Linked DNA regions of Homo sapiens. The protein of the gene in region 1 purifies or fractionates together with the protein of each later gene. This does not show direct contact. Each region holds a gene or a part of one and is shown in the gene's direction. Other genes may lie near its edges. The genes, in order: CEACAM21, ABCB10, PCDHGA11, OAF, KIDINS220, PCDHGC3 and EFNB1.

What was found.
Region 2: the proteins of CEACAM21 (region 1) and ABCB10 purify together in Homo sapiens (affinity purification with mass spectrometry; 4 studies listed by BioGRID and IntAct, with this or other methods). This does not show direct contact.
Region 3: the proteins of CEACAM21 (region 1) and PCDHGA11 purify together in Homo sapiens (affinity purification with mass spectrometry; 3 studies listed by BioGRID and IntAct, with this or other methods). This does not show direct contact.
Region 4: the proteins of CEACAM21 (region 1) and OAF purify together in Homo sapiens (affinity purification with mass spectrometry; 3 studies listed by BioGRID and IntAct, with this or other methods). This does not show direct contact.
Region 5: the proteins of CEACAM21 (region 1) and KIDINS220 purify together in Homo sapiens (affinity purification with mass spectrometry; 3 studies listed by BioGRID and IntAct, with this or other methods). This does not show direct contact.
Region 6: the proteins of CEACAM21 (region 1) and PCDHGC3 purify together in Homo sapiens (affinity purification with mass spectrometry; 3 studies listed by BioGRID and IntAct, with this or other methods). This does not show direct contact.
Region 7: the proteins of CEACAM21 (region 1) and EFNB1 purify together in Homo sapiens (affinity purification with mass spectrometry; 3 studies listed by BioGRID and IntAct, with this or other methods). This does not show direct contact.

Annotation. Positions count from the first base shown.
Region 1 is NC_000019.10:41,582,666-41,586,165, forward strand, and holds part of CEACAM21 (cell adhesion molecule CEACAM21 isoform 1 precursor), read left to right. Parts: intron 1-1,681; coding exon 1,682-1,778; intron 1,779-2,777; coding exon 2,778-2,830; intron 2,831-3,174; coding exon 3,175-3,206; intron 3,207-3,488; exon of another isoform or gene 3,489-3,500.
Region 2 is NC_000001.11:229,545,208-229,548,707, reverse strand, and holds part of ABCB10 (ATP-binding cassette sub-family B member 10, mitochondrial), read left to right. Parts: intron 1-1,006; coding exon 1,007-1,209; intron 1,210-3,500.
Region 3 is NC_000005.10:141,497,551-141,501,050, forward strand, and holds part of PCDHGA11 (protocadherin gamma-A11 isoform 1 precursor), read left to right. Parts: intron 1-3,500. UniProt on the Homo sapiens protein: Potential calcium-dependent cell-adhesion protein. May be involved in the establishment and maintenance of specific neuronal connections in the brain.
Region 4 is NC_000011.10:120,217,532-120,221,031, forward strand, and holds part of OAF (out at first protein homolog precursor), read left to right. Parts: intron 1-3,500.
Region 5 is NC_000002.12:8,782,114-8,785,613, reverse strand, and holds part of KIDINS220 (kinase D-interacting substrate of 220 kDa), read left to right. Parts: intron 1-3,500. UniProt on the Homo sapiens protein: Promotes a prolonged MAP-kinase signaling by neurotrophins through activation of a Rap1-dependent mechanism. Provides a docking site for the CRKL-C3G complex, resulting in Rap1-dependent sustained ERK activation.
Region 6 is NC_000005.10:141,496,466-141,499,965, forward strand, and holds part of PCDHGC3 (protocadherin gamma-C3 isoform 1 precursor), read left to right. Parts: intron 1-3,500. UniProt on the Homo sapiens protein: Potential calcium-dependent cell-adhesion protein. May be involved in the establishment and maintenance of specific neuronal connections in the brain.
Region 7 is NC_000023.11:68,835,521-68,839,020, forward strand, and holds part of EFNB1 (ephrin-B1 precursor), read left to right. Parts: intron 1-3,096; coding exon 3,097-3,374; intron 3,375-3,500. UniProt on the Homo sapiens protein: Cell surface transmembrane ligand for Eph receptors, a family of receptor tyrosine kinases which are crucial for migration, repulsion and adhesion during neuronal, vascular and epithelial development.

The DNA of each region.
Region 1 (3,500 bases):
GAAGCCATGGCCCCAGCTGTACCTTGGCCCTCTTTAGCCATGGCTGGAGTGGCTGGGATGCAGGGCACCAAGTCTCTAGGCCGCACACAGCAGGGGAGCCCTGGGCCTGGCCCAGGAAACATTTTTTCCTCCTAGGCCTCCAGTCCTGTGATGGAAGGGGCTTCCAGGAAGGTCTCTGACATGCCCTGGAGACATTTTTGCCATTGTCTTGGGGATTAACATTTTGCTCTTCATTGTTTATGCACATTTCTGCAGCTGGCTTGAATTTCTCCTCAGAAAATGGATTTTTCTTTTCTATTGCATCATCAGGCTGCAAATTTTCCAAACTTTTATGCTCTGCTTCCCTTTTAAACATAAGTTCCAATTCCAAACCATACCTTTGTAAATACATAAAACTGAGTGTTTTTAACAGTACCCAAGTCACATCTTGAACACTTTGCTGCTTAGAATTTTTTTTCCACCAGTTGCCCTAAATCATTTCCCTCAAGTTCAAAGTTCTGCAGATCTCTAGGGCAGGGGCAAAATACCACCAATCTCTTTTCTAGAGTATAACAAGAGTCACCTTTGTTCCAGTTCCCAAGAAGTTCCTCATCTCTGTCTGAGACCACCTCAGCTTGGACTTTATTGTCCATATCACTATCAGCGTTTTAATCAAAACCATTCAACAAGTCTCTAGGAAGTTTCAAACTTTTTTCCTGTGTCTTCTTCTGAGCCCTCCAAACTGTTCCAACCTCTGCCTGTTACCCAGTTCCAAAGTCACTTCCACATTTTCAGGTATCTTTATAGCAGCACTCCACTAGCTGGTACCAATTTACTGTATTAGTCCATTCTCACACTGCTAATGAAGACATACCTGAGACTTGGTAATGTATGAAGAAAGAGGTTTAATTGATTCACAATTCCACATGGCTGGAGAGGTCTCACAATCATGATGGAAGGTGAAAGGCATGTCTTACATGGCAGCAGGCAAGAGGACATGTGTAGGGAAGCTTCCCTTTATGAAACCATCTGATCTCCTGAGACTTATTCACTATCACAAGAACAGGATGGAAAAAACCCACCCTCATGATTCAATTACCTCCCACAAGGTCCCTCCCATAACACATGGGGATTATTACAATTCAAGGTGAGATTTGGGTGGGGATACAGAGCCTAACCATATCAATGGTGATGAACACCAAATACGTATTTCACAATATCACATACCCTTCTCCCTCAAGGCAATGGGAGGGTGAGAAAAGCTGCAGGTAGATTGATTCCCACTGTGCCTTCCATGTGGAAGGCCCCTGAAAACAGTCAATGAACATCATCCCTGCTCATCAGCATTGAGTTGGCAGCAAGGGCCTGCCCTTTACGACTGCCATGGGATGGAAAAAAAGAAACAGGGGGAAGAGGAGTGATGTGAGAGGAAGGAGGGACTAAAAAACACAGGAGCAGGATGAGGTGCAGGCTTCCTGTGGGAGAATGTAGGAGTTGATGCATCCCAGTAATTCAAGCCTAAGACACAGAAAATGGTGCAACCACGGAGAGCAAGGGAGCCAGCTATGAGGACAGCACAACAGACCACACTCAGGCTCCATGGCATTTCCTTCCTCCCTGACCATGCCCCTGCCCTGCAAGGCCCCTCATGGTTCCCCCTGGAACAGATTTGGACCTCATCCCCTTTGCCTTCTTCTTTCAGCAGATGACAACACTCTAGGCATCCTGATCGGGGTCCTGGTTGGGAGTCTTCTGGTGGCTGCACTTGTGTGTTTCCTGCTCCTCCGAAAAACTGGCAGGTACCACAGCTTTTCCCCATTCTGCTCCCATCCTTCACGCTGACCCCAGGCGAGAAGGAAGGAGACCCTGTCTTGTATTCAGTGCCAGGCTCTCCCCAGCCTCCCGACTCCCCAGGGATCCTTCCCTCTCATTCCATGGCACCTTCCTCACCAGCTGCTGACCCTGGGCTGCTTCCTCAACAGCTTTGTCCTCAGTGAATTCAGTCCAATTAAGGCCATGCCCCTGAGCATGGTCCTAGTTTCCTAGCACAGCAAAGCCACAGCTGCCTGGAGCAGGGGGGAGCGGTGCTCAATACCTGGTACCTCCCCCTGTTCACTGAATCCATCCACCCAGTGAGAGGGCATCTGAGGGGGGATCCTGGGCATCATCACATAGTGGAGACTGGAACAGCCTGGACGGGCTGGGTGGGGTCAGCACCCCTTTGACTGACATGGTAACTGCAGACACTGAGCTGTGAGAAGGGAGAACCGGGGCCCCAATATGGCATATCCTGGAATGTCGTTTATGTCTCTTGCCAAAGGGCAGAGACAGAAGACAAGATCATTGTCCCATTTCAGCATCTCCAGCCCTGAGTGGAGTGTCTGGTCACAGCAGGGACACTGAGTTCCAGGAGAATCCAAGATGCATGCAGTCCCCTCAGTGTCCTGCACATGTGCCTGGCCCTGCTTTCCCCCTGGTGCCTTGACCCTTCCTCTCAGGCAACCCCTGGTGGTCTGATTCCTTCCCTGGGTCCTCAGTCCCTTTCCTGTGTCACTGGATCAATGTTCTCCTGGCCCAGCATCTGCCTGAGAGTCCTTCCCCTCTGGCCAGGACAGATGTGGCTTTGTAAGGCCTTTCCTCAACTCCCCTCACCTGGGCCCCTCCTACCACAGAACTCCATAAAGAAAGGAGGTCTCCATACCCCTCTTGGAAATAGGCTCCTTTCCTGGTCCCCTATTTTAACTCCAATTTGTGACTTTTAACCTTGCACCTTCACAAATAACCCTGACCTTTCCTAGGGCCAGCGATCAGAGTGACTTCAGGGAGCAGCAGCCCCCAGCCTCCACCCCCGGTGAGTGTCCCTTCAGTCTGGGTGTGGCTGGGAACTACTAAGCCAGCCCCAAGTTGTCCACTCCTGCCAGTTACACCCAGGGGCCTCTGACCCTATCCCTGGGGCTGCAAAGAGGATCCCATAAAACATCACACAGGAAACCCCAACTGGCCGGGTCAGCCCTAACCTCCGGGCTCTGGGTCATGGGTCACTTCCTCAACCTCACTTGCTTACTTGACCCCTAAAATAACCTGAGAAAGGCTCCCTCTCCCCAATTCTCTAAGAACTGAGGACCCCCACACACTCTTGCAGGAGGGGCCCAGCTATCCTAACACTCTCGTGCTCACTTTTGTCTCTGTCCCCAGGCCATGGACCCTCTGACAGCTCCATCTCCTAGGTAAGACTGTCCGTTCCCAATCCCATTTCCACTGGGGCCCCAGCTGTGCAGGCTCAGGGCAGGGGGACTGTCAATCCCCAGCACAAACCCACCCTACCCAGAATGACTTGGATAAGGTTAGACCTGCCCTGGCCATGAGCTGGGCCTCTGTTCAGGGCCAGGATCATCCACTCCCTGTGCTAACCCCACCCTGGGACCCTCCATCACCTGAGGAGAGCCCTGGAATTCCTACACAGCAGGAATCCTTCCCTGTCCCCTGACACCCCTCTCTCCCCTGCCCAGATTCCCCTACCC
Region 2 (3,500 bases), on another chromosome or scaffold:
ATGGGGGACAGAGCGAGACTCCATCTCAAAAAAAAAAAAAAGAAAAAAAAAGAAAATGAGGCCCCTGGCCATGAAGCTGGACTTCTGAGGCTTCCTGAAGGCTTCAGAAACCCATTTACATGCCCCATGCTTGTGTTTCTCCTTAAGTAGCAGCTGGGATGATAACTTTGTTAGTATTTCTCTGAAGAGGTCTTGTTTTTACAGGCAGGTCACTGCCACAATAATGAGAGAACCTGGGACACCAACTCGAAGTCTGTTGCTCTCCATTTATCTCTGTGGATAATTAACCAATTCTTGCCATTTGAAGGTTCAATACAGGAAAGGGTTTCCAGGGAGGAACAAAATGAGCTTTTGGAAGTTAATGTAATAAAACTTCTTTGTAAATAATACCTTAAAAAAATCTCGGCCAAGTGTGGTGGCTCATGCCTGTAATCCTAGCACTTTGGGAGGCTGAGGCAGGAGGATTGCTTGAGCCCATGAGTTTGAGACCAGCCTGAGCTACATAGCAAGACTCCGTCTATATAAAAAATAAAAATAAGTTAGCTGGGTGTAGTGGCGGACATCTGTAGTTTCAGCTACCCAGGAGGCTGAGGTGGGAGGATGGCTTGAGCCCACAAGGTTGAGGTTACAGTGAACTGTGATCGTGCCACTTCATTCAGGCCTGGGTGATAGAGCAAGACCCAGTCTCTTAAAAAAAAAAAAAAAGTAAAAATAAAAAAGGCCTCTGAGTCATGTTATATTTATTTTATTCCTGTATCCTCTCACTAGCGCCCACAGTCTGTAGTTAATAAGAGAAAAGTAGTGTTAGTAGTGCATGACAGTTAATGTGCCTGGTTTGGGAAAGTCTCTTTCCACCCATGGGATACAGTGCAGCAGACACGCTCAGAGGCTGCATTGCTCAGGAGGGTTACAACTCCAGGCCAAGCTGCTGCACAGTAAGTGGCTGCCCCATAATGGTAATGGATGTCTTTACCCTTGGTGAGCCTGTTCGTGTTTGCTTTTGCAGGTCAGCGCATTGTGAATAGGCTGAGAACTTCATTATTCTCCTCCATTCTGAGGCAGGAGGTTGCTTTCTTTGACAAGACTCGCACAGGAGAATTGATTAACCGCCTCTCATCAGACACTGCACTCCTGGGGCGCTCAGTGACTGAAAACCTCTCAGATGGGCTCAGGGCCGGGGCCCAGGCTTCCGTAGGCATCAGTATGATGGTATGTGGGCCTGGTTCCCCTTGGTACCTTCCTGCCAGGGCTTGGCTTGCACCAGGCCTCTCACGTGTGAGACGAGCTCAAGCTGAGCGGTTCGCATCATTCTGTAAGTGCCTAGAGCCAAAAGTGCTGTTGCAGAAGCTGCTGGAACGTGGGGATTGCCTCTGCCTGCATGGCCTCTTGTACCTTCATTTCTCCAGAATGAGTGATTATCTGGAAAATGGACTCATGTGTTACTGCTGGGTATTCTGAGATGTGTGTACCCGGGGTATTAAGGCAGAAAAGAGCATCAGGTAGAAGGAGCACTGGGTACTACCCTGTGGGTGGCACCAAGCGGTGACTAAATTCCATTCCTCTGTGTGTGTAAGTCGAACTGTGCTCTTTTAAGGGGAGAGCTCTTCACTCCCATGGCCTTTTTTCCTTTCCTTAACTGGGTGGCTTGTGCCTGTCCTGTCTGCTTGCCTTACCTCTTCAACCAGTATTTCTATTCAGCCCAGTGCTGCAGGTCATTGGAGAGGCAATGCAAGCCACATATGTGATTTTAATGTTTTAGTAGCCACATTTAAAAAAGCAAAAAGAAGCCAATGAGATTAATTTTTTTTTTAATTTTAATTTTTTTAGAGACAGTCTCACTCTGTTACCCAGGCTGGAGTACAGTGGCAAGATCATAGCTCACTGCAGTCTTAAACTCCTGGGCTCAAGTGATTCTCCCACCTCAGTCTCCCAAGTATCTGGGACTACAGGCACACACCACCAAGTCTGGCTAATTTAAAGAATATATATATATATTTTTTGTAGAGGCAGGGTCTCTCTATGTTGCCCAGGCTGGTCTCAAACTCTTGGCCTCAAGTGATCCTCCTGCCTCGGCCTCCTGAAGTGCTGGGATTACAGGCTTGAGCCACTGTACCTGGCTGAGATTAATTTTAATAATGTTTTGTTTAAGCCAGTATAAACAAAATATTGTCATCTCAAGATGTAATTAATATCAAAATTATTAATGAGGTATTTTATATTATTTCTTTCATATTATAGTTGACCCTTGAACAATGCAGGGGTTGGGACACTGAAGCCCACACAGTCAAAAATCAAAGTATAACTTTTGACTCCCTAAAAACTCAACTACTAATAGCCTACTGTTGACCAGAAGCCTTACTGATAACATTAACAGTCAATTACCATGTATTTGGTATATGTATTATATACTATGTTCTTATAACAGAGTAAGCTAGAAAAAAGAAATGGTATTAAGAAAATCATAAGGAAGGTAAAATATATTTATTATTTATTAAGTGGAAGTGGATCATCATAAAAGCTTTTTTTTTTTTTTTTTGAGACGGAGTATCGCACTGTCATCCGGGCTGAAGTGCAATGGCACGATCTTGGCTCACTGCAACCTCCTCCTCCCGGGTTCAAGTGATTCTCCTGCCTCAGCCTCCCGAGTAGCTGGGATTATAGGTGCCAGCCACCACGCCTCGCTAATTTTTTTGTATTTTTAGTAGAGATGGGGTTTCACTATGTTGGCCAGGCTGGTCTTGAACTCCTGACCTCGTGATCTGCCTGCCTCAGCCTCCCAAAGTGTTGGGATTGCTGGCGTGAGCCACTGCGCCCGGCTCATCACAAAAGTATTTATCCTCATTGTCTTCACACTGAGTAGACTGAGAGGAGGAAGAAAGGTTGTTCTTGCTGTCTCAGGGGTGGCAGAGATGGAAGAAAATCTATGTATAAGTTGACCCATGCATTTCAGACCAATGTTGTTCAAAGGTCAACTGAATTTCCAAATCTGGTGTGTATTCTCTACTTAAGGAACATCTTAATTCGGATGCTAAATTTTCATTGAAAGTACTTGATCTATATTTAGATTTTATAAAATGTACAATTGAAAAAGTAGTTTGACATACTCAAGTTTTCCAGACATACTTAATAGTTTGCCAATAACTGAATGGAGTATAGGCTTTTAAATTTTAATTAAACCTAAATACAATTAAAAAGTCAATGTCTCAGTCATACCTGCCACATTTCAAGTTTCCAGTAGGGCTATCGTTTTGGGCAGTGCAGTTCTAGACTCGTGGAATAAGAACTGTAAATAATCCTTTCTCACAAGTGGAAAAGCTTGGATTCTGTCCTTTGTGTCCCATGAAGCACTTAGAGAGGAAGGGTGTGTTGCCTATTAGATCTGACTTACGGAATGAAAAACAGCTTTGAAATCTCATGATTTTCCAGCTAAGAGAGAAGCAAACCTCTGGAAGAGGACCCTTCCTGCACTAACATGCCGTTTTCCAAATATGAATAGTTTT
Region 3 (3,500 bases), on another chromosome or scaffold:
TTTTTTTTAGACAGAGTCTTGCTCTGTTGCCCAAGCTGGAGTGCAGTGGTGCGATCTTGGCTCACTGCAACCTCTGCCTGCCAGGTTCAAGCGATTCTCCTGCCTCAGCCTCCCGAGTAGCTGGGACAGCAGGTGTGCACCACCACACCCAGCTCATTTTTGTATTTTTAGTAGAGATGGGTTTCGCCACGTTGGCCAGGCTGGTTTCAAACTCCCCGACCTCAACTGATCCACCTGCTTCAGCTTCCCAAAGTGCTAGAATTACAGGTGTGATCGCCCCCGGCCACAACAAACATTTTTGATTCAGCGGCTCCAAAGTGAAATAAGCGTTAGGATCTAGTCCAGTAACTTCAACTTCTCTCCTTCATTCATTCAACAAATGGTCAGTGAGCACTTTCTGTTGGCCAGGCAGTGTTCTCGATGTGGGAGGCCCCTGCCCTCAAGGAGTTTACAGTGCACTGAAGGAGACAAATATTGACCAAATAATTACAAAAATAAATGTGAGACTGAAACTGTCATAAGTGCTAGGTAGAATTGTATCTGGTGGTGTGGGCGTATAATAGGGATTTGATTTAGGGAGCAGGAGGACATCCTGGAAATGAAGTTGTGCTGAGATCTGAAAGACAAATACAAATTAACCAGCTAAAGAAAAGAAGGAAGAGCATTCCAGATGGTCAGGCATACCAGCTTCAAAGCAGGGCTGGTGTTGAGTTCTTCAGTAAACTTGGTTCAAGATCAAGCCAGCTCTGGGTCACACTGCCTACACAGAAGGAAGAGCATTCCAAATGGGAAAAGCCTATGCAAAAGCCTTGTGGTGAGGCCTCCTGGGATCAAGGGAATGGCAGGGAGTTTTCTCTTTGCTGGCACTGGAGTGAGGGGATGAAGAGGAGAGGTTCCTTTTATCCAGTCTAACCCTGGTTCCAGCCTTCTGTTGATGCCCTGCCTCACTCCCTCCCCACCATCTTGCCCACTGCCCTCCAGCCTGGTCTGGTCAGACACACCAGCTTCAAAGCAGGGCTAGTATTGAGTTCTTCAGTAAACTTGGTTCAAGTTCAAGTCAGCACTGGGTCACACTGCCTAGACAGAAGGAAGAAGACCTGGCCAGGTGTGGTGGCTCACGCCTGTAATCCCAGCACTTTGGGAGGCTGAGGTGGGTGGATCACCTGAGGTCAGGAGTTTGAGACCAGCCTGGCCAACATGATGAAACCCCATCTCTAGTAAAAATACAAAATATTAGCCAGGTGTGGTGGTGCACACCTGTAGTCCCAGCTACTCAGGAGGCTGAGGCAGGGGAATCGCTTGAACCCAGGAGGCGGAGGTTGCAGTGAGCTGAGATCACACCACTGCACTCCAGTCTGGGTGACAGAGCGAGACTCCATCAGGAAAGAAAGAAAGAAAAAGAGAGAGAGGGAGGGAGGGAGGGAAGGAAGGAAGGAAGGAAGGAAGGAAGGAAGGAAGGAAGGAAGGAAGGAAGGAAGAAAAGAAAGAAAAAGGGAGAAAAAATGAAGAAGACTTACATTCTGAAGTTCCTGCTTGGCACATGCTTCTCCTCCCCACCACTATCCCTTCTCAGGTCATCCTTTGGGTGTCTGATCCCAATAGCTGTTGTCTCAAGCTCTGAGCCCAGCAAACCATTTCCCCCTTCTTAGGCTGTAACCCAGGCCCTGCCCTGCAGCTGTCCCCAGCCTCTGCACAAAGAGTCTCCATTTGGTCCCTAGACTGTTCTCTGATGGCTCCACACTACCATCCCTCCTCTGAGAGACAGTATCCCTGCTCTCTCTCAGTTTGGGCAGTCATTCAACAAACAAATAGCAACTTAATTTTTTTCCACTTATAAAATAGTACATGCTCATTATAGAAACATGAAAAATAGAAAAAAAATTAAAAGGAAAACCACCCATCATTTTACAATCTAGGGAGAACCACCACCAACTACAGTTTAATATGAAACATTTCAAATATGTACAAAAGTAGAGAGAATGGTGTCATGAACCTGTATGATACCACTATCCAGCTTCAACTAATGCCTTATCTTGTTTCACCTATATCCCTACCCTTATCCTGTCCTTGGATTCTTTTGAAGCAAATCTCAGACATCATATAATTTCATCTTGGTCTCCACCATCTTTAACAGATGACTTTTTTTTTTTTTTTTTTTTTTGGAGACAGAGTCTCACTCTCTTGCCCAGGCTGTGGCACAATCTCAGCTCACTGCAGCCTTCGCCTCCCGGGTTCAAGCAATTCTCATGCTTCAGCCTCCTAAGTAGCTAGGATTACAGGTGTGCACCACCACACACAGCTAATATTTTGTATTTTCAGTACAAACAGGGTTTCGCCATGTTGGCCAGGCTGGTCTTGAACTCCTGGCCTCAAGTGATCCACCCTCCTCGGCCTCCCAAAATGTTGGGATTACAGGTGTGAGCCACCTTGCCCGGCCAGATGATTCTTTCATAAGGTCCACATTTTATATTTGAGTGAGTGTCTCTTAAGTATCTTAATGCTCTTTTAATGTAAAAGACTTCCCCTCCATCTTCCATTTTTGCAATTTATTTGTTGAATCCCTGCCTTTTCATATATATCTTTCTAAACTTTTCTTTGTGTAATCAAAGAACATGCATGAGCTTCATTTTTATTTTTATTTATTTATTTATTTATTTATTTATTTATTTATTTATTGATACGTAGCCTTGCTCTGTCACCCAGGCTGGACTGCAGTGGCGCAATCTCGGCTCACTGCAAGCTCCGCCTCCCAGGTTCACGCCATGCTCCTGCCTCAGCCTCCAGAATAGCTGGGACTACAGGCGCCCACTACCACGCCCGGCTAATTATTTTGTATTTTTAGTAGAGACGGGGTTTCACCGTGTTAGCCAGGATGGTCTCGATCTCCTGACCTCGTGATCCGCCCGCCTCGGCCTCCCAAAGTGCTGGGATTACAGGCGTGAGCCACCGCGCCTGGCCGAGCTTCATTTTAAAAAAATCTCATTCACCTAAATAAGTTGTTCACAAACTTGTCACACTTTCATGTGACACTTTATTCACATATTAAGAACTGTTATTCCCAGTCATACGGTACATTTCCTACTAGTTTTTTAAAAATAGCAACTGAGGCCATACTGTCCAACAGAATTATAGCTTTTTTCTTCTTTGCAGTGTATCATGAGAATTTCCCCATGTCTTTCAAAATTCTTCCCAAGTCATTTGCAGAGTAACTCCTCTTATGAATATACATATTATTTTACAGAATAAGTCCTCATATGAATATACATATTATTTTTCTAATGCTAATGGGCTTTTGCTACATTAGAAAACATACACATTCATTTACAATTTTTTTTTTTTGAGACAGTCTCGCTCTGTCTCCAGGCTGGGGTGCAGTGGCGCCATCTCGGCTCACTGCAAGCTCCACCTCCTGGGTTCAAGCAATTCTCCTGCCTCAGCCTCCTGAGTAGCTGGGACTACAGGCACGCGCCACCACGCCCAGCTAATTTTTGTATTTTTAG
Region 4 (3,500 bases), on another chromosome or scaffold:
TCACGCCGTTGCACTCCAGCCTGGGCAACAGAGTGAGACTCCATCTCAAAAAAAAAGAAAAGAAAATATCTCACAGACACTAGTGAGCAATCACTATGTACGTTTTTTCCTGCCACTTACCCACTGTGTGACTTGGCAAGTCACTTAACCTCTCTGAGCCCCAGGCTCCTTGCCGGTACACCAGAGACAACAGTGTGATGCTTGGGGTTCAGTGTGCGCAGTGACTAAGAGGCCCTTCGCAGAACAGAGGCCCGCGTGGGCATGTGAGGAGTGAGGTGCCAGTGCCCGCTTGGATGTCCGTCTACCCCACCGTTAAGCATGTTGCTGCAGCTGCTGCTTTTCTGCTGTAGGGACCAAAGCATCATGAGGAGCTAACATCCTTGAAGTTGGCAAGTGTTGAAGTGGCTGCCACTAGGGATTCAGATAAAGGGCAGGGAGAGGCATCAGGGCTGGGAGTGCGGGTGAGAGGGAAGCATGGAGACCCGTCTCAGGAGCACTGAGTCAGCAGCACAGTGGGGCGCAGTTGATCCACATAAAGCCTCACATTGTTCCTGCAGCAGTCAGGACAGTGGTGACCTTTGGGATTCGGCTGACAGAGCACTGCTCTGGGGAGGGGCTGGGGGCAGGAGCACTGCTCTGGGGAGGGGCTGGGGGCAGGAGCACTGCTCTGGGTGAGTGGTTGTGCTAATGCCCCAAGACAAGCAGCCTCTGTCCAGGCCTAGCCCTGAGGGGATGCTGGCATCTCATCATGGGGCGGCCTAGGTCCCTGGGCACTGGCCTCGGGATGTGCGTGGCCTGGCTCTGGGTGGAATCCATCCACCCCGTTCCTGCTCGAGAAGCCTGGGCAGAGCAGCCAGGGTGCTTCCAGCTTTGCCGTGGGGCTAGGAAGGCACTGCTTCCTGGCTGGCTCTGCAGGCTAAACCCCCTCTCCCCTCCCCAGCCCAGCGAAGCCAGCCACTTCTCTAGCCATAAAGCAGCCCCAGCCAGGAGCAGAGGAATAAATATTTAGATTGGCTCAGCCTGGGCCCCAGAATCATGCTCTCTGGTGTGACAGGAAGGAGACCAAGATGGCAGAGGACACTCCCAGGAGAGAGCGCCAGCTGTCCAGGAGCAAGAGGGTTGGAAGAATGGGAGGGGGCCAAGTGGCTTGTGTGGCCCTAGAGCGATGACCTGCAGCCTGGGCCATGACCAGCACTGGACAGTGGTGGCTGGAAGCAGGGTGTGGAGGGAAGGGGCAGTCTGCTGCCCTGGCCCCCTTTGCTTTCCATTCTCCTGCAGGCGGGCCTCCCCCCAAACCCCAGGGCTTTCTGGGGAGGGGCTGAGGAAGAGCGCCTGGAGAGTGGGGCCAGCTAGGGACCGTGATGGGAAGGCAGGGTGCCAGAGGAGACCGGGCAGGCTGGAGCAAGGTGATGACATGCGGTAAGAGTGTGTGCCTGCACATGCACGCATGTACACGTGTGTGTGTGTGTGTACACACGTTATGAGAAGTGGCATCGGGAGGAGGCGTGTGAGGAGAATCGAGCAAGTGAGGAGGGTGATGCGGGGTGTGCCCTGACGCTGGGCATGAGATGGGGAATTCACAGGGGGGGTGGGCGTGGGGACTGCGGAGAGGGGTGTGATGAGACGGTGGGGAGCCGCCTCTGCCGGCAACAGGGAGACTGAGGGAGGAGACAGGCCCAGATGCACCCCTGTGGAGGGAATGGGAATGTGGAACAGGAGCCACTGGGAGACCTTGCGGGAAGGAGACTGAGACCCAGCTTGTCTGTGAAAGAGGACGGTGTGCGCGAATGGGGAAGCCGTGTGAGCCTGTGCATCAGTTGAGATTAGGCTCAGCCGTGAGCAACATAAACCCCCAGGAACAGCGGCTGAGGCCGTGGCAAAACAGCCTGTTTCATTCTTCCCAGTGTTATCTGAGTCTGGAAGCCAGTCAGGGCTGGTGTGACAGCCCCGCTATCCCCTGGGATCCAGGGGCTCCCTCCCCACCCTCAGTGCTGAGCACAGGATGTCTGCCCAGGGGTGCTCTGCCGTCTCTCAGCGCATTCCCCCAGTGCAGCTGAACCAGAGCAGCCTTCCCTCTGGAGACACAGGTGGATCCCAGTCAGACAGCATGGCTGGGATGGGCACAGGGAGGAATTGAGTATCTGGACAAGGGCTACGGAGGGGAGCCAGGACAAGCATGAAGATCACTGGACTCAGAGTCAGGAGGTCTAGGCTTCTGGCCCTGGCTCTGCCACTGTGTGACTCATGAAGGTTACTTCCCTGCTGGAACCTCACTGGGCCATGAACTAGATGATCCCCTAAACCTTCTAGATGCCAAAATAGCAGCTGTAGCACTATCAGCCTGCAGGAGCCCAGCTGCAGGCAAGGCCGAGAAGAAAGAGTGTCTGCACATTGGAGGCCAGTGGGTTGATGGAGGCCCTAGAGCATTCATTCGTTCCTCCAGCTACTAAGCATTGAGCCCCAGCTGTGCGACAGACCCCAGGGTCACCATGTGAATAGGCTAGAGTCGCTGCTCTTGAGCCAGAGGCAGGTCACAGAGGGCTTGGATGACTAACTGCCTGGGCAGAAGGTGCTCCATGAGGACAGAGACCATCTGACTGGGGCACTGAGATCCAAGGCACTCTCACAACCTCAGGCAGAGTCTGATTCAGCTCCAAACCACAGGTCCCTCATGTCACCCCAGGCTCAAACCCACCAGTGACTTCCAGAGAGGCACAAGAGGAAGCCTCCCACTCCTCAGCCTGGTTCAGACCCTGCGTCCTGCTTGTGTCCTGACCCCTTGCCAGCCTCATCAGCACTCACGACCCTTCCCCTCCTCCCCTAGTACATTCCCACCGCTTTTCTCAGAGAACTCTTCCATGCTGTTGTTCATTCACCCTTCATGTATTCCTTATCAGATGTTTATTGAGCACCTGCTGTGTTCCAGGGGGCAGGGATGCACTTCAAGCAAGCCACTTTTCCTGGCTCAAGAAGTTGAGTCTGGAAAGAAAGACAAGTAAAGAGGTCAGCAAAAACACAGTGGGAGTAAACAGTGGGATTTGTGCTCTAGAGGCAGCGACTGGGATTGGCCAACTCTGCAGAAGGGCTGGTGAGGGCAGCACTGGGAGGGCAGTCAGAGGAGGGTCGTTTGTGAGCTGTGCCCTGCACACAAGGCACAGCTGAGACAGCTGAGCACAGGGCATCCCGGCAGAAGAACCTGCTCACAGAAAGGCCTAGGGGTGACACAGCATCGCTCATTCTGGGAACTACAAGCTCTCCGGTTCAGTGCATGGGAAGTGCAACAGTTGCTGTGAGCAGGGACCTGGGATGCCAGGCTCTGGGGTTAGGCTTTCTGGTGAGGACAAAGGGAGCCCTTGAAGGGCATTCGGCCACTCGGGTGATAGTAGCATGGAGGGATGATTGGGTGGGGGCACTGGGAGACTCATGCCTGGCTGTCTTCTGTAAATGCCTCATTGCTGGAAAGCCCTCCATCCTTTAACTGTCAAGGGCCAATGAGGAGT
Region 5 (3,500 bases), on another chromosome or scaffold:
CATTCATTCATTCGTTCATTCAAGACTATAATTTAAGGTAGTTTTAAGTTCACGGTAAAATTTAGAGGGAAGTGCAAAGATATCCCATATACCCACTTCCCCCACACATACACAGCCTCCCCAATTGGCACGATTACCCACCAGAGCAGTACATTTGTTACAATTGATGAACTTAGGCTGACACATCATAATCACCCAGCATCCATAGTTTACAGTAGGGTTCACTCTTGGTGTGGTACATTCTGTGGGCTTGGACAAATGTATAACATGTATCCACCATTATAGTCTTATACAGAGTAGATTTATTGCCCTCAAAATCTTCTGTGCTTCACCTCTTCACACCTGTTCACCCCTCCCTCCACCCTCCTCCCTAACCCCTGGCTACCATTTCTTTTTACTATCGCCATAGTTTTGCCCTTTCCAGAATGTCATATAGTTGAATCATACATGTGTAGTCTTTTCAGATTGGCTTCTTTCACGTAGTCATATGCATTTAAGTGCCCTTCATGTCTTTTCATGACCTGCTAGCTCATTTCTTTTTAGCATGGCTAATGTGCCATTGTCTGGATATATCACAGTTCATTTATACATTTATCTACTGAAGGACATCTTTATTGCTTCCAAGTTTTGGCAAGTATGAATAAAGCTGCTATAAACTTTTGTGGACAGGCTTTTGTGTGAACATAAAGGATTTGAAAACTCCTTTGGGTAAATACCAAGGAGTGTGATTGCTAGATTGTATGATGTTTCGTTTTGTTAGAAACAACCAGACTGTTCTGAGGTGGCTATTTTGCATTCCCACCAGAAATGAATGAGGCTCCTGTTGCTCCACATCACATCCTCACCAGCATTTGGTATTATTGGTGTTCTGGATTTTGGCCATTCTGTTAGGTGTGCAGTGGTATCTTATTGTTTGAATTTGCATTTCCCTGATTACACATGTTGTGGAGCATATTTTCATGTGCTTATTTGCTATCTGTATGTCTTCTTTGGTGAATTGGCTGTGAAGGTCTTGGCTTATTTTTCAGTCAGGTTGTTCATTTTCTTATTGTTGAGTTTTAAGAGTTCTTTGTGTATTTTGGCTAATGGTCCTTTATCAGATAAGCTTTTTGCAAATATTTTGCTCCATTCTTTTGGTTGCTTTTCATTCTCTTGACAGTGTCTTTTGCAGAGCAGACATTTTTGATGAAGTCTAGCTTACTAATTCTTTCTTTCATGGATCTTGCTTTTAGTGTCCTATCTAAAAAGTTAACACCAAACCTACGGTCACCTAGATTTTATCCTCTGTCATTTTCTAGGTGTTTTATACTTTTGCATTTAGGTCTGTGAGCTATTTTGAGTTAATTTTTGTGAAGTGTGAATGTGTCTAGATTCTTTTCTTGCTTGCTTTCTTGCTTCCTTGCTTCTTTTCTTTTTTTTTTTTTGTTTCCAGTTGTTCCAGCACCATTTGTTAAAAACGCTATTTCTTGCATTGTATTGCCTTTGCCGCTTGTCAAAGATCAATTGACTATATTTGTGTAGGTCTGTTTCTGGGCTCTTTCTCTTTGTCTGTTCGTTTGCGCATACCACACTGTTTGATTACTCTAGCTCTATTTTCTTGAAGTTGGGTAGTGTCAGTCCTCCTATTTTGTTCTCCTCCTTCAATACTGTGTTGGCTATTCTGGGTCTTTTTCTCCTCATATGAACTTTTGATTCACCTTGAATAACTTGCTGGGATTTTCATTGAGATTGCGTTAAATCTTTAGGTCAAGTATTGAGTCTTCCTACCCATGAACATGGAATATCTCCTCATTTATTTAGTTCTTCCTTGATTTCTTTCAAGAGTTTTGTGGTTTTTCTCATATAGATCTTATACATATTTTGTTAGATTTATACCTATTTCGTTTTTTGCAGTGTTAATATATATAGTAATTGTGTTCTTAATTTCATGTTTGACGCTGATATATAGGAAAGTGATCAACTTTTGTATTAATCTGAAATCTTGCTATAATTGTTTGTTAGTCCCAGGAGTTTTTTTTCATTGTGGTTCTTTCGGTTTTTCTACATAGAGAGTCAAGTCATCTGTGAACTAAGACAGTTTTCTTTCTTTCTTCCCAGTCTTCATACCTTTTATTTCCTTTTTGTTTGTTTGTTTTATTGCATTAGTTAGGACTTGCAGTACTATGTTGAAAAGGAGTGGTAAGAAAAGGGACAATCTTGCCTCGTTCCTGATCTTAGTAGATGTTTTCATGTTCTCACCATTAAGTATGATGTTAACTACAGATACTCTTTATCAAGTTGAAGAAGTTCCTCTCTATTTCTAGTTTACTGAGAGTTTCTACCATAAATGGTGTTGGATTTTGTCAAATGCTTTTGCTTTATCTAATTATGCAATCATGTGATCTTTCTTCTTTAGCCTGTTTCTTTTTTTTTTTTTGAGACGGAGTTTTACTCTTGTTGCCCAGGCTGGAGTGCAGTGGTGCCATCTCAGCTCACTACAACCTCCACCTTACGGGTTCAAGTGATTCTCCTGCCTCAGCCTCCCAAGTAGGTGAGATTACAGGCATGCAACAGCATGCCCAGCTAATTTTGTATTTTTAGTAGAGACGGAGTTTCACCGTGTTGATCAGGCTGGTCTTGAACTCCTGACCTCAGGTGATCCACCCTCCCTCCTCGGCCTCCCAAAGTGCTGGGATTACAGGCATGAGCCATTGTGCCCAGCCTAGTCTGTTGAAGTGATGGATTACATTAATTGATTTTTGAATGTGGAACCGGCCCTACCTACCTGGCATAAATCTCACTTGATTGTGGTGTATAATTCTTTTTATACATTTTGCATATGATTTTCTAATATTTTGTTGAGGTTTTTTGCATCTATGCTCATGAGATATTTATTGGTTTGTAGTTTGCTTTTCTTGTCAAGACTTCGTCTGCTTTGGGTATTAGGGTGATGCTGACTTCATAGCATGAGTTAGGAAGCATTCCCTTTGCTTCTGTCTTCTGAAAGATCCTATGTAGAGTTGGTATAATTTCTTCTGTAAGTGCTTGGTAGACTTCATTAGTGAACCCTCTGGGCCTGGTGCTTTCTGTTTTGAAAAATTATTATTGATGCAATTTCTTCAATAGATATAGGCCTGTTCTTGTGAATTTTGGCAAATTATGTCTTTGAAAGAACTGGTCTGTTTATCTAAGTTATCAAATTTGTGGGCATAGAGTTGTTTGTAGTATCCCTTTATTATCCTATTTTTGTCCATGAGGTAGGTCTAAAGTGGTAGCCTCTCTTTTATTTGTTGTTTTTCTGAATTTGTGTTTCCTCTTCTTTCATCTTAGTTAGTCCAAGGCTTATTGATTGTGTTTATCTTTTGAACTAACTAGCTTTTGGTTTCATTGTTTTATTTCTGTTTTAGTTTTTATTATTTCTTTTCTTCTGATTACTTTGGATTTAATTTGCTCTTTTTCTAGTTTCCTGAGGTGGAAGCTTAGATTATTAATTTTATTTTATTTTTATTTATTTATTTTTT
Region 6 (3,500 bases), on another chromosome or scaffold:
TTCCCCCATCCTGCAACCAACCAAACCCTTGTTGCCACAAGGACCCAGGAGCCCTTGGTGTATGGCAGAGATTCCAGCTTCTGGGCATGCACAGTCCTGTCACCCATTTTAGGAACGCAAAGCGCTTCTTAGAAGGCCCCTAAAAAGCAGCAGATCAAAAGGCTTGGGCTGCCCTTGCCCTTCCTTTGACCCCAGCTGTTGTCCTTCTCCCTGCTGGCCTTGCCAACCTTCTCATAAGTTATCCATTAAGTCATTAATGTATTCATTCGTTCATTTATTCAACAAATATTTATCGAGCATCTACTATGAGCAGGGCCCTGTGCTAAACATTGGGCTATAGGAGTGAACAAGTAGATGTGATCCCAGAACTCATAGGCTTCCAGACCAGCAGAGGAGACTGAAAATTTGCAACAAGTAACACTTAAAAAAAAAAAAAAAGGCTGGGCACTGTGGTTCACGCCTGTAATCCCAGCACTTTGGGAGGCCAAGGTGGGTAGATCACTTGAGGTCAGGGGTTTGAGACCAGCCTGGCAGCCAACATGGTGAAACCCCATCTCGATTAAAAATACAAAAATTAGCCAGGCGTGGTGGCAGGCACCTGTAATCCCAGCGACTTAGGAGGCTGAGGCAGAACTGCTTGAACCCGGAAGGCAGAGGTTGCAGTGAGCTGAGATCACGAAAAAAAAATAATCTAGCCACAAATCACAGTAAGTTCTGAGAGGCAGAGAACAATGTGAGTGTAATGGGGGGGGGAAGATCAGAGAAGGCTTCTAGGAGGAGGTGACATTGAGAAGTTCTAGGCCATTTATGTTCCCTCTACCTACCACCACCCCAGGCCATACACTGGCTTTGAAGCAGAATTCACCATTGAACCTGGAAGCCCCACCAACTGCCTCTCATGTGTCCTCTGGGGTGAGCACCTTACCCCTGCCTCAACTCCCATTCCATCAAATGAGAGGCTTAGTGGCCTGGAATACATGTGGGAGCTCTTGGAGATATGGAGGAGAAGGTGCGGAACCTCTCTCTCTCTCCTCTCTCTGCTTCCTTAGTTAACTTGTGGAGGATGCAACAAACCTTTTTTTTTTTTTTTTTTAGACAGAGTCTTGCTCTGTTGCCCAAGCTGGAGTGCAGTGGTGCGATCTTGGCTCACTGCAACCTCTGCCTGCCAGGTTCAAGCGATTCTCCTGCCTCAGCCTCCCGAGTAGCTGGGACAGCAGGTGTGCACCACCACACCCAGCTCATTTTTGTATTTTTAGTAGAGATGGGTTTCGCCACGTTGGCCAGGCTGGTTTCAAACTCCCCGACCTCAACTGATCCACCTGCTTCAGCTTCCCAAAGTGCTAGAATTACAGGTGTGATCGCCCCCGGCCACAACAAACATTTTTGATTCAGCGGCTCCAAAGTGAAATAAGCGTTAGGATCTAGTCCAGTAACTTCAACTTCTCTCCTTCATTCATTCAACAAATGGTCAGTGAGCACTTTCTGTTGGCCAGGCAGTGTTCTCGATGTGGGAGGCCCCTGCCCTCAAGGAGTTTACAGTGCACTGAAGGAGACAAATATTGACCAAATAATTACAAAAATAAATGTGAGACTGAAACTGTCATAAGTGCTAGGTAGAATTGTATCTGGTGGTGTGGGCGTATAATAGGGATTTGATTTAGGGAGCAGGAGGACATCCTGGAAATGAAGTTGTGCTGAGATCTGAAAGACAAATACAAATTAACCAGCTAAAGAAAAGAAGGAAGAGCATTCCAGATGGTCAGGCATACCAGCTTCAAAGCAGGGCTGGTGTTGAGTTCTTCAGTAAACTTGGTTCAAGATCAAGCCAGCTCTGGGTCACACTGCCTACACAGAAGGAAGAGCATTCCAAATGGGAAAAGCCTATGCAAAAGCCTTGTGGTGAGGCCTCCTGGGATCAAGGGAATGGCAGGGAGTTTTCTCTTTGCTGGCACTGGAGTGAGGGGATGAAGAGGAGAGGTTCCTTTTATCCAGTCTAACCCTGGTTCCAGCCTTCTGTTGATGCCCTGCCTCACTCCCTCCCCACCATCTTGCCCACTGCCCTCCAGCCTGGTCTGGTCAGACACACCAGCTTCAAAGCAGGGCTAGTATTGAGTTCTTCAGTAAACTTGGTTCAAGTTCAAGTCAGCACTGGGTCACACTGCCTAGACAGAAGGAAGAAGACCTGGCCAGGTGTGGTGGCTCACGCCTGTAATCCCAGCACTTTGGGAGGCTGAGGTGGGTGGATCACCTGAGGTCAGGAGTTTGAGACCAGCCTGGCCAACATGATGAAACCCCATCTCTAGTAAAAATACAAAATATTAGCCAGGTGTGGTGGTGCACACCTGTAGTCCCAGCTACTCAGGAGGCTGAGGCAGGGGAATCGCTTGAACCCAGGAGGCGGAGGTTGCAGTGAGCTGAGATCACACCACTGCACTCCAGTCTGGGTGACAGAGCGAGACTCCATCAGGAAAGAAAGAAAGAAAAAGAGAGAGAGGGAGGGAGGGAGGGAAGGAAGGAAGGAAGGAAGGAAGGAAGGAAGGAAGGAAGGAAGGAAGGAAGGAAGAAAAGAAAGAAAAAGGGAGAAAAAATGAAGAAGACTTACATTCTGAAGTTCCTGCTTGGCACATGCTTCTCCTCCCCACCACTATCCCTTCTCAGGTCATCCTTTGGGTGTCTGATCCCAATAGCTGTTGTCTCAAGCTCTGAGCCCAGCAAACCATTTCCCCCTTCTTAGGCTGTAACCCAGGCCCTGCCCTGCAGCTGTCCCCAGCCTCTGCACAAAGAGTCTCCATTTGGTCCCTAGACTGTTCTCTGATGGCTCCACACTACCATCCCTCCTCTGAGAGACAGTATCCCTGCTCTCTCTCAGTTTGGGCAGTCATTCAACAAACAAATAGCAACTTAATTTTTTTCCACTTATAAAATAGTACATGCTCATTATAGAAACATGAAAAATAGAAAAAAAATTAAAAGGAAAACCACCCATCATTTTACAATCTAGGGAGAACCACCACCAACTACAGTTTAATATGAAACATTTCAAATATGTACAAAAGTAGAGAGAATGGTGTCATGAACCTGTATGATACCACTATCCAGCTTCAACTAATGCCTTATCTTGTTTCACCTATATCCCTACCCTTATCCTGTCCTTGGATTCTTTTGAAGCAAATCTCAGACATCATATAATTTCATCTTGGTCTCCACCATCTTTAACAGATGACTTTTTTTTTTTTTTTTTTTTTTGGAGACAGAGTCTCACTCTCTTGCCCAGGCTGTGGCACAATCTCAGCTCACTGCAGCCTTCGCCTCCCGGGTTCAAGCAATTCTCATGCTTCAGCCTCCTAAGTAGCTAGGATTACAGGTGTGCACCACCACACACAGCTAATATTTTGTATTTTCAGTACAAACAGGGTTTCGCCATGTTGGCCAGGCTGGTCTTGAACTCCTGGCCTCAAGTGATCCACCCTCCTCGGCCTCCCAAAATGTTGGGATTACAG
Region 7 (3,500 bases), on another chromosome or scaffold:
ATACACCCATCCCTTATGGCCCGTTACCACTCTCTTGAGCTTCTGACAGGTCAAGACGAGGTTTGCCCAGTGGTCGGGAAGATGCTAAGGTTACCAGTATGGGGGATCAGGGTCAGGGAAGGCGGGTCTCATCAGGCTCCGCTCCCTTCTGCACTTCAGGGGAAGGTGAGTTTCCCTCTGCCAGCTGCCATGCAAATGAACTAATGAATATTTATGAAGTCTGTTCACTGAGGTTGAAGAGACTCTGAGGGGTTTTGGGGGCAATAGTTCTCTCTTCTCCCCCCTCCTCCATCATGTAGACATCTGTTTCCTCAATGCCTCTGGCTTCAAGGTAGAACCCCAATTAGCTAGAAGCCCTGTTCCAATTCCAGGGCTCTGGAACCTGGGTGGCAATGGGAGACTGCACTTGGGGTAGACAGGACTCCCTGGTGAGTAAGCCAGAACCGAGTGGTTAGAAAGCTGAGCTGGCCTGTCTCCCTTTCCGTGCCCTCTATGTAGCTGCATATATATGTGTTGTTAAGATGCAACAGTACAAGGATTCAGGTAATGTTTTAGGGCCTCTTAGACCCATCGGGTTATTGTCCTGGGTAGGTTTAGACCCCTCTTTTCAATGGGAACATTCATCTGATCATTCATTCCCTCACATGAAGGGCCTGGACTCTAAGGTTCCTGCTGGCTCTAAGATGTGAGCAGTTGTCTAATCCTGCCATCTGGATGGAACCGTTGTGAGCACTGGAAAGGGAAAAAATGCCTGGAGAATTCTAGAGGCTTTGGGGAAACTTGTTGGCTTTGTATGGTGCATGGGACAGGGGTATTCCATCTGAAATGTTTATCCAGGCTTCCATCCCATGCCTACTTCCTTTCTGGGCCCTCTATAGTTAGGTACCAGTGGGGAGGCCATCTCATTCTGGCTTTTACCCTCCTGCACATCAAGATGGCAGCTCCCAATTTGGTGGAGCCTCACTCGACATGGAGGAAAGGCTGCTTTTCTTCGTCCACTTCATCCATGTGGTCAGTTTCCCTCTTCGCCTACTTGGGTATCATTTCCCTCCCTCAGATGAGGACACAGGTTTGGCATTGCAAAGGCATTTGCCCAGAGTTCCCAGTAGGCCGGTATTGCTTGTAGTACCTTTGGTGTAATGGGCCCTCAGGAAATGGAACCACTCTTTTCTCAGATGATTGTGGTAGCCTGTGAACTGGTGCATGACACTGTCAGCTTCATTCTCTTTAAGCACTGCCTGAAGCCTTCCATTGTCCTTCCTGCTCTGAGAGCCTGTCTCCAATGGGATGAAACCCACCCTGCTTGCTGTGACCCTTGAAGCCTTTCAGTCTGGCCCCAGGTGAACTTTTCACCTCTTCTTCTGTTTCTCTCTTCTCACTCCCAGCCAAGCTGGACCAATCACTGGCCTGGGCTTTGTGTTGTAGCCACTGCTGTCTACTGTCTCAGTGTGTTGACTTCTTATTCCTCACCTAAGACCCACTTTCATCCTGCCTTTCCTGTGGATACATCTCTGACCATCCTGGTCAGATGAGCTATCTCTTTCTTCTCCCTGCCTCCAGCCCTTGCTGCTTGAATCATCATCCTCACACATACCTACAGATAGCCTGGTGTTGTCTATCACTCGAGTATGGGTTATTTACTTTTCTGACCCAAACTGGACAGTAAAGTCCTTGACGATGGAGCCATATCTTCTCTTCCTGTTTCCCCTCCAAAATATGAGAGTGAGCTCATAGGTACTTAGTGTTAGTATCTGACCTCCTGCCTCTTGGGAGACTGCTTCTAAGAGGCAGTCAAACATGTTGAACGCCTATTGTGTGCTAGGTGTTCTCCATGTGCTGCCTTGTCTCCCCACCACAATATTGGAAGGTAGGGGCTCTTGCCACCCCCACTTTACAAGAGAAGAAACTGAAGCTCAGAACAGGCAGCTCATCCAAGGTCACAGAGTTAGTAAGGGCCTAGCTTTGGAATCTGATTCTAAAGTCTGTGTTCTTTCTCCTACATGGTTCTGCCTTGCTCTCAGCACCAGCCCATCCAGTCTCAGAAATGGCCAATGGAGCACCATTTTCTTTCTGTGTGCTTAGGCAAGGACAGAGTCCTATGGATAGGTGGTCCTGGGCTGCTGACCCTCCCTGCTGTCCCCCAGTGCCTGGCCTTCTGGATTAGAATATGAACCTGGCTCAAAAGGCATTTGTCCATCTCCTCTCAGGAGCTGGAGTAGGAGCAACATAGAGGTGACAGGTTAGGATACAGATGAGGCCCTATCTTCTATGATCTGTTGTCTCTGGTTGAGCCCCTTCTCTTCTCCTCTGTTCTTTTTAAGAATGAGATGAATCAAGTTTAGGAATTCAGGCTCTTGCATTTTGAGGGTGGGATGAATTGCCAGTAGGACAATAGGCAGTGGGAGTGAGCAGAGCTGCACCTGGCCAGAGACTGTGGCCATCATCCCTTTGCTCCAGGCGATGCCTGTTCCTATCTTTCCATCATGACCAAGATTAGTAAGGATGGGGGAGAAGACATGGGTCCCAGACAGATTGAGCTCCCCCAGCCTTTGGCTGGGAGCTGCGGGGAGTGGTGACTAAGACATGTGTGGGCTTGCTGTGTGTGTGTGTATGTGTGTGTGTGTGTGTGTGTGTGTGTGTGTGTGTGTGTGTGCGCGCGCGCGCGCGCACGTGTGTATGGGTATAGGAGAGGTAGTAGCAGCGGTCATGAAGGAATCTTTGTTGGGGGTGGGGGTATATAAGACTGCCACCTCCAGGTAGCATGGGCCTGACACCTTGGTACCCAGCCCATTGGCCACGTCAGCCCCCTGCGGAAATGCCACATTAGGACAAAGGGCTCCCCCAGCCAGGCAGTGCTCCACCCTGCCGAGCAGTCAGAGCCTGGCAGCCTTGCCCATGGGCCACCCCTTCCACACTCTCCTGGTAGTGTGGTTCTCTCTCCCCACCCCCAGCCTGAGGATGGAGGAAGGGCAGAAGGCTTGCTCTTGCCATCTCCACCCAGTAGGCCCAGCCCGGCTCTTGTCCGCTTCCCTGGTTCTGGAATGGCCTGGGGCCACCCCCAACCCTGAGGCTGACCATCTTCTTCCTTCTGGGCAGGTTCCTGAGTGGGAAGGGCTTGGTGATCTATCCGAAAATTGGAGACAAGCTGGACATCATCTGCCCCCGAGCAGAAGCAGGGCGGCCCTATGAGTACTACAAGCTGTACCTGGTGCGGCCTGAGCAGGCAGCTGCCTGTAGCACAGTTCTCGACCCCAACGTGTTGGTCACCTGCAATAGGCCAGAGCAGGAAATACGCTTTACCATCAAGTTCCAGGAGTTCAGCCCCAACTACATGGGCCTGGAGTTCAAGAAGCACCATGATTACTACATTACCTGTGAGTCCCGCCCATCCCATCCTCTGGCTCTCTCCCTGGGCTTAACTCTTTCCTCTCCTGTAGTAGTGGGAGCTTCTAAGTGGTGCAATGCTATTGCATGTAGTTAAGACCCTGCTGGATCTGATC